Linked DNA regions of Homo sapiens. The protein of the gene in region 1 interacts with the protein of each later gene in a pairwise test. Each region holds a gene or a part of one and is shown in the gene's direction. Other genes may lie near its edges.

Region 1 (3,539 bases):
TCTTTTCTTTTCTTTTTCTTTTTTTTTTTTTTTTTGAGGCAGAGTCTTGCTCTGTTGCCAGGCTGGAGTGCAGGTGCAGTGGTGCGATCTTGGCTCATTGCAACCTCCGCCTTCCGGGTTCAAGCGATTCTCCTGCCTCAGCCTCCCAAGTAGCTGAGACTATAGGCGCATGCCATCACGCCCAGCTAATTTTTGTATTTTTAGTAGAGACGGGGTTTCACCATGTTGGCCAGGATGGTCTCGATCTCTTGACCTCATGATGTGCCCACCTCAGCCTCCCAAAGTGTTGGGATTACAGGCGTGAGCCACTGCGCCCAGCCCAGCCTTACATTTTCTAGCCTCTCCATTCCACTGAGTAAAGAGGGACTTACTGACATCCGAGTCCAGTCAAATAATTTTGCAGTCACTCACTTCTAGTTTAAAATCTAGTCCCAGCTGGTTCACAGGAATCTCAGGTTTCCCTTCCCTCTTAGATCAGGCCCAGGTCTCATGGCTTCTGGGATAGGCTCTCTTTCAGAATATCTTACTTTTCCCTCCTAAAATACAGAAATCATCCATTACAAAGTGATGACTCTGACGAAACCTGATGGCTGGTGCTGTTGTTTCTAGATAATACCATACTGAGGAAGGAGTAGATTAGGAAGCAAGAAAATCACTTTGATTTGGGGCATATTGAATTGGATTTGTTTGCAAGATTTCCATATAGGACCGTCTGGGAGGCAGCTCAGGATAGGGATCAGGAGTCTACAGCCTAGAAATAGAAGTTAAAACCTTGCGAGTGATTAAAGATAGTTCTGGGGAAGACTGTGGATAGAGAAAAGAAAAGGTCAAGAACAGAACCACCAGGCCTACTCTTATTTAAAAAAAGAAAGACCAGTGAATTATACTATTAGCCAACATGTATATGGTACTTACCACTGTCATGCCAAGTGTCAGGTTCCAGCCCATACTGAGGTCCGAGGGGAGTTGTTGGATGGGTGGCAGGTAGTTGAAAGAACACTCGGGGCTGTAGGCAGGTAAAATATGATTTTATTCAGCAGCAGCTGCTGCAGCTCTCACACTGTCTGCCTCTGTCTCGGCTGCCTCCTCCGACCGCAGCCCTTCTCAGCAAACGGCTCTGTGGCTCCTGCCGCTCCCACACTTACAGCTGTACTCCTTGGCATGCTTGTTAATTCCTGGCTCACCTCTGTCTGTCTGCAAGATGGCCAGTTCTCTCTTACAGGGTCAGCAGTTTTTCTCTCTCTCTCTGGGCACAAGTCCTATGTACAGTGTCAGCAGGGCAATTATACCATTTACAGACAATAGTGGCTGTAAGCCAAGTATGAGCTTACACAAACAGGTTATATAACAAGTGGAGTGGTGCGCCTGCGTTCCAAACTCGCTGAGTCACGCTGGCCTGCATATCTGCCTCGGCCTATTCTTGACCAAAGCACATCCATTTACCTTACACTCCACCCCCTTGGCCGAGGGAGACATAGGTTTTTGGGTACACAGGCCCAATATATAGGTTTGGCACACAGGCCTGACATATAAACTTTGGGCACCCAGGGCTGATACACACAGGCTTGACACATAAGTCTGACACATAGGCTCTGGGCACACAGGCCCAATGTATACATAGAGGCTTGACACATAAGCCTGACACATAAGCTCTGGGCACTTGGGCCACAGTAATACAGGGAGCAATAATTTCAGGTTATAGTGAGCAATCACTACATGGTGATGTTACCCCAATGTTGCTTTATATATTAATCCAGGGTTTTTGCTTCCCTACCTTTAGGGTGTTGGGGCGGGCAACAACAGGTTACTGTTTGTCCCCATACCTGGTTGGAGGAAGTCATCCTTTCTCTCATAGATCTGGCCACATGGCCTGGCCCTACATGGGTCGGTGACTAGCCACTTCTGTAACTTCTAGGTAGTTAGCCACAAGGTTAAGCCTTGATAAACTGCCCAGCTATCAGTGCAGATTACGTGTCACCTTCTTGGTGATCACCATTTACATTGCCCTGAGTTCAGTTTATTAGCTACTTTGTCCACACCTGGTATCAAACCATAGGGTGTTGGTACTAGGCTGGGCTGCAACAGCAGTCCAGGTAGCAGTAGCACCCTGGCTAGACCTATCTGTGTACCATGCCCCATTGGGAATGCGGGAATGCCCTTCCTTAAAAGGTGAAGGCTCAGGATCTAGGGGTGCCTCAGGTCCCATAACCTTATCTTGCATTAGGACTGTAGGTCCTAAGACTTCCTGTAATTGTGCTTCTAAGGGACTTGAGTTAGCATACTTTGCTGTTCCAAGTAGGCTTAAGCACCCCACTTTACAAAAGTGGATGTCTGTGCCATCCCAGTGTGTGGGTTGTTACCCATGAGCATACCCACCCTGCTATTGGGTAAGTCATGCGCGCGACGACTGTAGCCCATCCTGCCAGGCTGTCACGAGTCTAAAGGGCAGCATATGCAGTTAGTAACTGCTTCTCTGTCGAGGAATACTGGAGCTCAGCTCCCTTCCAAAGTTGGGACCAAAAGTCTACTGGCATTCTAAAGAGCTCTGTGTGATGCCATAAGCCCCAGTCAAAACTATCTGGTCACATGCACATCAAGTTTAAATGGGTGCCCCGATCAGCTACCCATAGGGCTTGTGCCTGCTGAATAGCCTGTTTGGCTGCCAGGAAGGTGGTTTCAGCCGCATCATCCCAATTCCAGGCAAGAGGCTGCGTTGCTGCTTCTAAATCTGCAAGAGAATCAGAGGTTAATATAACATCATTAATAAGATCATGACATATGTTGGGGCTATGCATATATCCCTGCAGCAATACTGTGAAAGTCCATTGTCACCCTCCCACGAAGGCAAAGTGTTCCTGGCTCTCTGGAGCAATGTCGATTAAGAGGAATGCATTGGCCAAGTCCACCACACAGTGGCACCATCCCAGTTCTGTTGTCAAGTGGCCTATCAAATCCATGATAGACGGCACAGCTGCCAAGCCGTGCAAAACATCCACCCACAGCCTGTCCTCAGGCATGGGAGAGACATCCACAGTGCATAAGCAGGGAGCTAAGCGGCCGATGCCGAGGTCCAAAGATACAGGTTTCACTTTCACTGACCAGCTTTCATAACCGTCAATAAATGCAGCTCTGCCCGGAAACTTATTCAGGTTTAGGGACCAGTGGCTTGCCGAGTCCACATATTGCCTTTGGTTGTCCGGTGTCCCCCCAAGCCTGGCACCTGGGTCAGTTCCCAATCAAACAGGAAAGACTTTACATTTCTGCCTGACTGCAGCAGGTAATCTTTGAGCTGGAACGCTCCGGCGGGACCTAGTTGCCCAGCAATGTCCTTTTCCCGAATGACTTGCACTAAGTCTATATACAACTGCCATCTACTGACAGTTTCTGGTATTTCACCGGCATCAGACCACACTGTAATTAAAGAAGCCAGCTTTTCCATCTCAGAGGGGGAGCAGGAAATGGATCAGCTCCTTTGTCCCGGAGAGACAGAATTCAGGCAGGGAGTCTCCCCCAAATGCTGCTGGCACTGCTTGCCTAAC
Region 2 (2,802 bases), on another chromosome or scaffold:
CATCAATGAGGACTTCCGGACAGAGTCACCCCCCAGCCCAAGCAGTGATGTTGAGGATGCCCGAGAGCAGCGGGCACACAATGCCCACCTCCGCGGCCCACCACCAAAGCTCATCCCTGTCTCTGGAAAGCTGGAGAAGGTGAGGACCGGCTCTTCCTTGTGGGCCTGGGTAGAACGGGAGTCCTCGCTTGGGAAACTGGAATTTAGAAGCTTATATAGAGGAAAGAGTGTGGGCTCCAGATTCACCAGACCTGGGTCCTAATCCCAGCTCTCTCTCATTCTGGATGTGTGACCTCAGGGAAGTCACTTAACCTGAGCCTCAGTTTCTAGAACTGACATGAAGGTCAAATAATGTATAGCATAGTGCCTAGCACGTAGCATGTACGCAGTAAGTGCTAGTTGCTTACGTTCTGGTTATTCTGCACCAGTTATACGTTTGACTTTGGGCAAGGCCTTTAACCTTGCTGAGCCTCCATTTCCTCATCTGTAATATGGGGATAGTGATCATATTTAGATAATGGAGATAAACTTTTCAAATTGCTTGACACAAAGCTGACACTGGTGGCCACCTCCACCAGTGGCCGCAATTGTTATGAATATATGGGCACTGGGGACCCAAGACGGGAGGGCAGGGAGTGTCATAAGGGCTCTGCAAGATTGGGCAGCTCATCTCCAGTGTCACATGGCACCTCATTTCAGAACATGGAGAAGATCCTGATCCGCCCAACAGCCTTCAAGCCAGTGCTGCCCAAACCTCGAGGGGCTCCGTCCCTGCCTAGCTTCATGGGTCCTCGGGCCACCGGGCTGTCTGGGAGCCAGGGCAGCCTGACGCAGCTGTTTGGGGGCCCTGCCTCCTCCTCCTCCTCTTCCTCCTCCTCTTCAGCTGCTGACAAACCCCTGGCATTTAGTGGCTGGGCCAGTGGCTGCCCATCAGGGACGCTATCCGACTCTGGCCGAAACTCACTGTCCAGCCTGCCCACCTACAGCACCGGAGGTGCCGAGCCAACCACCAGCTCCCCAGGCGGGCACCTGCCTTCCCATGGCTCTGGGCGAGGGGCACTGCCTGGGCCAGCCCGAGGGGTCCCTACTGGGCCCTCCCACTCAGACAGTGGCCGGTCCTCCTCCAGCAAGAGCACAGGCTCCCTAGGGGGCCGTGTGGCTGGGGGGCTTTTGGGCAGTGGTACTCGGGCCTCCCCTGACAGCAGCTCCTGTGGGGAGCGCTCACCACCACCCCCGCCTCCACCTCCTTCGGATGAGGCCCTGCTGCACTGTGTCCTGGAAGGAAAGCTCCGAGACCGGGAGGCAGAGCTTCAGCAGCTGCGGGACAGTCTGGACGAGAATGAGGCTACCATGTGCCAGGTGTGGTCAGAGGCAATGATGGGGAAGGGGCATGGCAGGACATCCCAAGGCCCTGGGATGCAAGCGGCATTTCCATTTTGGCAGGGAACGGGGGTTGGGTAGTTGTAGTTGTGACCCCCCTGCCCTCCCCACCAGTTGTCTGGTTTAATGTGTGGAGTAGCCAGGTGTGGTGGCTCACATCTGTAATCCCAGCACTTTGGGAGGCCGAGGTGGGCGGATTGCTTGAGCTCGGGAGTTTGAGACCAACCTGGGTAACATGGGGAAACCCCATTTCTACTAAAAATAAATTAGCTAAGTGTGGTGGCATGTACCTGTAGTCCCAGCTACTTGGGAGGCTGAGGTGGGCGGATCACTGGAGCCCAGGAGGAGGAGGTTACAATGGACTGACATTCCACCATTGCACTCCAGCCTGGGCGACAGAGCAAGACTCTATCTCAAAACAAAAAACAAAACTTGTGGGGTGGAAAGGAGTCAGAGTGCATGGATTCAAACCTCCCACTGCCAAATACTAGTTTTTGGGCTTGAGCAAGTTGCTTAACTTTACTCAGCCTTTATTTCTTCATCTATATAGGGATATTTCTAGCTTCGTAGGATTATTATGAGGATTAAATAAGGCAAAAGGTGTAAAGTGATTAGACTAATGCCTGGTACCTAGGAAGTGCTATATAAATGCTTGCCTTTTTTAAAATTTTTTATTATTTTTTATTTTTAGTAGAGACAGGGTTTCCACCATGTTGGCCAAGCTGGTCGCGAACCCCTGGCCTCAAGTGATTCACCTGCCTCGGCCTCCCAAAGTGCTGGGATTACAGGCGTGAGCCACTGCACCCGGCCAAGTGCTTGCTTTTTTTATTTTTTGAGACAAGGTCTCATTCTGTCACCCAGGCTAGAGAGCAGTGGCGTGATTTCAGCTCCCTGTAGCCTCAACCCCCTGGGCTCAAGCAGTCCTCTCACCCCAGCCTCCCAAGTAGCTGAGACTACAGGCGCATGCCACCACACCAAGCTAATTTTTGGTCTTTGGAGAGGCAGGGTTTTGCTGTGTTGCCTAGGCTGGTCTCGAACTCCGGAGCTTAAGTGATCCACCCACCTCGCGTGAGCCACCGAGCCCGGTCTGCTTGCTCTTGTGTTTGTTTCTATGATCATCATAAAAGCAGTTAGTATTGTTGTTGCAATTACTATTGTTGTTTAATGGAATCCACCCTTCCTGAGCCCTCGGAAGTGGGCTGCCAGAGCAGACACTGAGTGGGGAGTTGGGAAAACTGCCCAGGAGCCAGGTCTCTCTTCTCGCCTGCAGGCATACGAGGAGCGGCAGCGGCACTGGCAGCGAGAGCGTGAGGCCCTGCGAGAGGACTGTGCGGCCCAGGCACAGCGGGCACAGCGGGCCCAACAGCTGCTGCAGCTGCAGGTGTTCCAGCTGCAGCAGGAGAAGCGGCAATTGCAGGACGA
Region 3 (2,927 bases), on another chromosome or scaffold:
ATTCGCCAGCAGAGCCCAGCTCCTCCGCTTTAAAGCAGCAATGCCTCTGGCCCCCACCCCACCCCCGCCACCCAGGCGCAGCAGGTGCTTCCCGTCCCCCCAGCCCTGACACTCAGGCACCTGCTTGCTCCTTGCAGGTGTTTCAGACTCTGCACAGCACCGGGCAGTCGTCCATGGTCCGGGACTGGGTCATGCTGTCCCTCTCCAACTTCACGCAGAGGGCCCCGGTCGCCATGGCCACGTGGAGCCTCTCCTGCTTCTTTGTCAGCGCGTCCACCAGCCCGTGGGTCGCGGCGATGTATCCTCTCTGGGTCCCTGGTGCTGGCCCCGTTTCCCTTGTCAACACCGAGGCTCATGTTTCATGATAAGGTTTTGAAACCTAACCTTTGCAAAAACCCCACAGATGCCAGGGTGACAGGCCCTCAGCCCCAGGGAAGTAAAATGCTGACAGGGGTACAGAAAGGAGCACGTCCAGACATTTGCTGACCAGGGCCTCTCAGAGGGGCCGGTGTATGGCAGGAGGGTCGCAGCTGAGGGGCCTTTCTGTGGAGGGCCTGGGTGAGGGGAGCGAGGGTGGGCGGTGGTCTCTGCAGACGTCCCGCCCACTCGCGGGCTCTGTGTGGCTGGGCTTCTCCTGACACTGCTTCTCATTAGCTTTGGTCATTGTGCCTCGATCGCCCTCTCGGGGAAAGGCTTAAGTAAAGATCCAGTTCCCACCCCCAGATGCTGGCTGCCAGGAGTTTCCCTTTCCACAGCCCTTCCCCAAGACAGACCACAAGAGCCTCCAAGCAGCACAGTTGTCCTGGTGCTGACAGCACAGCCTTGCCCGGCGTGCCTGGCACGGCTCTGCCCTCACTGCATTGGAGCAGGGCTAGTGGAGGCCAGCGGAAGCACCGGCCACCAGCGCTGCACAGGAGCCAGGCCAGGTGAGTGCTGCCGAGTGGGTGCCCTGCCTGCAGGGCATCCAGCCAGCCAAGGGTTGCAGGAATGGAGGTGGAGGCGCTGATGCAGCTGGAGGCATCCAGGTGGCCCTTCCGGGGCTCTGCTCGCTCTCCAGGCTCCCTGGACCCCTTTGTAGACTGTTTCAGGAGAGGAACTCCCAGGTGAGGACAGGGAGGCAGCATTCCCCTCATTTGCCGGCCTTTTTCCTTAACTCCTGCACCAGCCTCCCACATGTCATCAGCAGGATGGGCAAGCTGGAGCAGGTGGACGTGAACCTTTTCTGCCTGGTCGCCACAGACTTCTACAGACACCAGATAGAGGAGGAGCTCGACCGCAGGGCCTTCCAGTCTGTGCTTGAGGTGGTTGCAGCCCCAGGAAGCCCATATCACCGGCTGCTGACTTGTTTACGAAATGTCCACAAGGTCACCACCTGCTGAGCGCCATGGTGGGAGAGACTGTGAGGCGGCAGCTGGGGCCGGAGCCTTTGGAAGTCTGCGCCCTTGTGCCCTGCCTCCACCGAGCCAGCTTGGTCCCTATGGGCTTCCGCACATGCCGCGGGCGGCCAGGCAACGTGCGTGTCTCTGCCATGTGGCAGAAGTGCTCTTTGTGGCAGTGGCCAGGCAGGGAGTGTCTGCAGTCCTGGTGGGGCTGAGCCTGAGGCCTTCCAGAAAGCAGGAGCAGCTGTGCTGCACCCCATGTGGGTGACCAGGTCCTTTCTCCTGATAGTCACCTGCTGGTTGTTGCCAGGTTGCAGCTGCTCTTGCATCTGGGCCAGAAGTCCTCCCTCCTGCAGGCTGGCTGTTGGCCCCTCTGCTGTCCTGCAGTAGAAGGTGCCGTGAGCAGGCTTTGGGAACACTGGCCTGGGTCTCCCTGGTGGGGTGTGCATGCCACGCCCCGTGTCTGGATGCACAGATGCCATGGCCTGTGCTGGGCCAGTGGCTGGGGGTGCTAGACACCCGGCACCATTCTCCCTTCTCTCTTTTCTTCTCAGGATTTAAAATTTAATTATATCAGTAAAGAGATTAATTTTAACGTAACTCTTTCTATGCCCGTGTAAAGTATGTGAATCGCAAGGCCTGTGCTGCATGCGACAGCGTCCGGGGTGGTGGACAGGGCCCCCGGCCACGCTCCCTCTCCTGTAGCCACTGGCATAGCCCTCCTGAGCACCCGCTGACATTTCCGTTGTACATGTTCCTGTTTATGCATTCACAAGGTGACTGGGATGTAGAGAGGCGTTAGTGGGCAGGTGGCCACAGCAGGACTGAGGACAGGCCCCCATTATCCTAGGGGTGCGCTCACCTGCAGCCCCTCCTCCTCGGGCACAGACGACTGTCGTTCTCCACCCACCAGTCAGGGACAGCAGCCTCCCTGTCACTCAGCTGAGAAGGCCAGCCCTCCCTGGCTGTGAGCAGCCTCCACTGTGTCCAGAGACATGGGCCTCCCACTCCTGTTCCTTGCTAGCCCTGGGGTGGCGTCTGCCTAGGAGCTGGCTGGCAGGTGTTGGGACCTGCTGCTCCATGGATGCATGCCCTAAGAGTGTCACTGAGCTGTGTTTTGTCTGAGCCTCTCTCGGTCAACAGCAAAGCTTGGTGTCTTGGCACTGTTAGTGACAGAGCCCAGCATCCCTTCTGCCCCCGTTCCAGCTGACATCTTGCACGGTGACCCCTTTTAGTCAGGAGAGTGCAGATCTGTGCTCATCGGAGACTGCCCCACGGCCCTGTCAGAGCCGCCACTCCTATCCCCAGGCCAGGTCCCTGGACCAGCCTCCTGTTTGCAGGCCCAGAGGAGCCAAGTCATTAAAATGGAAGTGGATTCTGGATGGCCGGGCTGCTGCTGATGTAGGAGCTGGATTTGGGAGCTCTGCTTGCCGACTGGCTGTGAGACGAGGCAGGGGCTCTGCTTCCTCAGCCCTAGAGGCGAGCCAGGCAAGGTTGGCGACTGTCATGTGGCTTGGTTTGGTCATGCCCGTCGATGTTTTGGGTATT
Region 4 (3,539 bases), on another chromosome or scaffold:
TTTTTGGGAGATGGAGTCTCGCTGTGTCCTCCAGGCTGGAGTGCAGTGGTGCAATCTTGGCTCACTGCAGCCTCTGCCTCCCAGGTTCAAGCAATTCTTATGCCTCAGCCTCCCGAGTAGCTGGGACTACAGGCACATGCTGCCAGGCCCAGCTAAGATTTTTGTATTTTAGTAGAGACGGGGTTTCACCGTGTTGCCCAGGCTGGTCTTGAACTCCTGAGCTCAGGCAGTCCCCCTGCCTCGGCCTTTCAAAGTGCTAGGATTACAGGCGTGAACCACCATGCCCGGCCATGGTTGCTTTTATGTATATTTTGCAAATGGAAAATTACCTACAAATGTCAGTTGAATGATATCAGGTCGTATTTCCAATGAGGTAGAAATAAAAGAAAGTAAATTTCTTTGTGTAGCAATTACTGAAGTGATTTAAAAACTTTTCTAGTCCCTTACAACTTAGTGTATTACTCAATACCCAGAAAAATGAAAGATTCAGTGAGAATTAGAAGGGGTGTTGTACCTTTAGATTAAAGAAGAAAATGTTTGGTAAAGAAACAGTTAATTCTTCACCCAATAAGTTGTGTCTCTGGTTGAAAATTTTAAAAAGGAAATAAAAGAAAACAAAAAAATGAAAAAGAGTTTACCAGGTTGGCTGGGCGCAGTGTCTCATGCCTGTGATCCCAGCAATTTGGGAGGCTGAGGTGGGTGGATCGCTTGAGCTCAGGAGTTTGAGACCAGCCTGGGCAACATGGTAAAACCTTGTCTCTACTAAAAATACAAAAGTTAGCTGGGTGTGGTGGCCCACGCCTGTAATCCCGGCTACTCGGGAGGCTGAGGCATGAGAATCGCTTGAACCCAGAAGGCGGAGGGTGAGCCGAGATCACACCAGTGCACTCCAGCCTGGGTGACAGAGTGACACTCTGTCTCAAAAAAAAAAAAAAAACAAGAAGAAAAGAAAAGAAAAAATGAATTTACCAGGTTGGGTATGGTGGCTCATGCTCATAATTCCAGTGCTTTGGGAAGCTGAGGTGGGAAGATTGCTTGAGACCAGGAGTTTGAGACCAGCCTAGGAAACCATGAGATGCCATTTCTCCAATAAAATAGTAAGATTAGCTGGGTTTGGTGGTGTGTGCCTGTAGTTCCATCTATCATTTTATCTTTTGTGTGCATGTGTGTGGTAAACAAGGGAAATCTGGAAACTTTTTAAAAATTTAACTTAAGGAACTTTTTTAATTTCTTTTTTTTTTTTTTTTTTTTTTGAGGCAGAGTCTCATTCTGCCACCCAGGCTGGAGTGCAGTAGTATTATCTCGGCTCGCTGCAACCTTTGCCTCCTGGGTTCAGTTAATTCTCCTGCCTCAGCCTCCCGAGTAGCTGGAACTATAGGCACATACCACCACAGCCAGCTAATTTTTGTATTTTTAGTAGAGATGGGGTTTCGCCATGTTGGCCAGGCTGGTCTCGAACTTCTGGTCTTAAGTGATCTGCCCTCCTTGGCCTCCCAAAATACTGGGATTACAGGCGTGAGCCACCACACTTGGCCTAAGGAACTCTTTAAACATAGGATAGAATACTGTAATGATAACCCCCATAGAGCCATCACTCAGCTTCAGCAATTATTAATGTTTTACCAGTCTTGGCTGGGCGTGGTGGCTCATGTCTGTATTCCCAGCACTTCGGGAGGCCGAGGTGGACGGATCACCTGAGGTCAGGAGTTCGAAAAACCCTGTCTCTACTAAAAATACAAAAAAAAAAAAAAATTTAGTCAGGTGTGGTGGCACATGCCTGTAATCCCAGCCTGTAATCCCAGGTCACAGTGAGCCGAGATCACACCACTGCACTCCAGCCTGGGCGACAGAGACTGTGTCTCAACAACAGCAGCAAAAAAAAGTTTTCCCAATCAATCTTGCTCCATCTATATATCTTCTTTCCCCTACTCCCCTCAAGACACAGCTAGAATATTTTGAAGTAGATCCCAGGAATCATATGTAGTTTTTTTTTTTTTTTTTTTTTTTGAGAGTCTCACTCTGTCGCCCAGGCTGGAGTGCAGTGGCACGATCTCGGCTCACTGCAACCTCTGCCTCCCAGGTTCAAGTGATTCTCCTGCGTTAGCCTCTCGAGTAGCTGGGATTATAGGTGTCTGCCACCATGCCCAGCTATTGTATTTTTAGTAGAGATTGGGTTTTGCCATGTTGGCTAGACTTGTCTTGAACTCCTGACCTTAGGTAATCCTCCAACTTGGGCCTCCCCAAGTGCTGGGATTATAAGTGTGAGCCACTGCGCCTGGCCCATATGTAGTCTTTAACTATCTTTTCAATCAGTCTTTCAGGGGAGAAATGGCATGCAGGTATTCTGCAAACTACTCATTTTGAATTTTGTATTCTTTCGGTCTTTGTTAAGGATATTCGGACTCATTTTGAGTTCACTTATTATCTCTATTTGCCCTTTGTTTAGAATTTATTGTTTTCAAGACCAGGTCAGTAATACTTACCATCTCCTGCATTAAGTTCTCAGCCAAGCCATCATTCCTAGAAAATCAGATTTCTAAACCCTTTGTTTAGAATTTAAATCAAGAGAATCGTTCTGTTCTCATTTGCCCAGTCATCTCATGAGTGTATATTTCTATTTGTCTAGATAAAACAGGTATTTTCTTGTACCTATATAGCTATTATATGAGTATAAAAATAAAAGTATGAAAGTGTGTAGGTATATGCTGTGCTTATATGGCTTTGGGGTATCTAATTCACTTTTTTTTTTTTTGGAGACAGAGTCTCACTCTGTCACCCAGGTTGGAGTGCAGTGGTGCGATCTCGGCTCACTACAACCTCTGCCTCCTGGGTTCAAGTGATTCTCCTGCCTCAGCCTCCCAAGTAGCTGAGACTACAGGTGCACGCCGCCACGCCTGGCTAATTTTTTGTATTTTAATAGAGACAGGGTTTCACCGTGTTGCCCAGGCTGGTCTTTAACTCCTGAGCTCAGGCATCCACCTGCCTCGGCCTCCCAAAGTGCTGGGATTACAGGTGTGAGCCACTGCACCTGGCCAACTAATTCACTTTATAGGTGTTTTAGGAAATAAAAAATTGAGCTATATACATCTTATTTTTATATAGGAGTTGGAACAAAAATTGACCCCACTTTGTGCCGGGCTGACAGAATGGTGGGGCAAGTACTTGGTGCAGTCGGAGCTTTACCTGAGATATTCACAGAATTGGAAATTTCCTATTTCCTGCTTAGACGGCTTCTAGGTGTACGCACTGAAGGAGACAAGAAAGCAGCAAAGGTAAATGCTTTTTTAAAAATTCCTGTTTCTAAAAAAGTGACAAATGGGAGTGTTAAACCAGTGTTGAGTTTTATTGTTTTACAGTTAACATGAAATTAAGAAAAAAAGAAAAGGTAAATAAATTTGACCTCCCCAAAATTGAGGGTTTTTTTTTTTTTAATTTAGAGATGGAGTCTCTCGCTCTGTTGCCCAGGCTGGAGTGCAGTGGCGCGATCTCGGCTCACGGCAACCTCCACCTCCTGGGTTCAAGCAATTCTCTTGCCTCGG

What was found.
Region 2: the proteins of ZKSCAN3 (region 1) and LZTS2 interact in binary tests that used the Homo sapiens proteins (3 or more experiments, as listed by UniProt).
Region 3: the proteins of ZKSCAN3 (region 1) and HTT interact in binary tests that used the Homo sapiens proteins (3 or more experiments, as listed by UniProt).
Region 4: the proteins of ZKSCAN3 (region 1) and EIF2S3 interact in binary tests that used the Homo sapiens proteins (3 or more experiments, as listed by UniProt).

The regions. Positions count from the first base shown.
Region 1 is NC_000006.12:28,352,947-28,356,485, forward strand, and holds part of ZKSCAN3 (zinc finger protein with KRAB and SCAN domains 3), read left to right. Parts: intron 1-411; exon of another isoform or gene 412-536; intron 537-915; coding exon of another isoform or gene 916-948; exon of another isoform or gene 949-1,006; intron 1,007-1,184; exon of another isoform or gene 1,185-1,258; intron 1,259-2,376; exon of another isoform or gene 2,377-2,728; intron 2,729-3,099; exon of another isoform or gene 3,100-3,325; intron 3,326-3,539. UniProt on the Homo sapiens protein: Transcriptional factor that binds to the consensus sequence 5'-[GT][AG][AGT]GGGG-3' and acts as a repressor of autophagy. Specifically represses expression of genes involved in autophagy and lysosome biogenesis/function such as MAP1LC3B, ULK1 or WIPI2.
Region 2 is NC_000010.11:101,002,808-101,005,609, forward strand, and holds part of LZTS2 (leucine zipper putative tumor suppressor 2), read left to right. Parts: coding exon 1-139; intron 140-699; coding exon 700-1,359; coding exon of another isoform or gene 1,360-1,461; exon of another isoform or gene 1,462-1,669; intron 1,670-2,650; coding exon 2,651-2,802. UniProt on the Homo sapiens protein: Negative regulator of katanin-mediated microtubule severing and release from the centrosome. Required for central spindle formation and the completion of cytokinesis.
Region 3 is NC_000004.12:3,238,681-3,241,607, forward strand, and holds part of HTT (huntingtin), read left to right. Parts: intron 1-137; coding exon 138-298; intron 299-1,165; coding exon 1,166-1,379; 3' UTR 1,380-2,927.
Region 4 is NC_000023.11:24,068,456-24,071,994, forward strand, and holds part of EIF2S3 (eukaryotic translation initiation factor 2 subunit 3), read left to right. Parts: intron 1-3,102; coding exon 3,103-3,272; intron 3,273-3,539. UniProt on the Homo sapiens protein: Member of the eIF2 complex that functions in the early steps of protein synthesis by forming a ternary complex with GTP and initiator tRNA.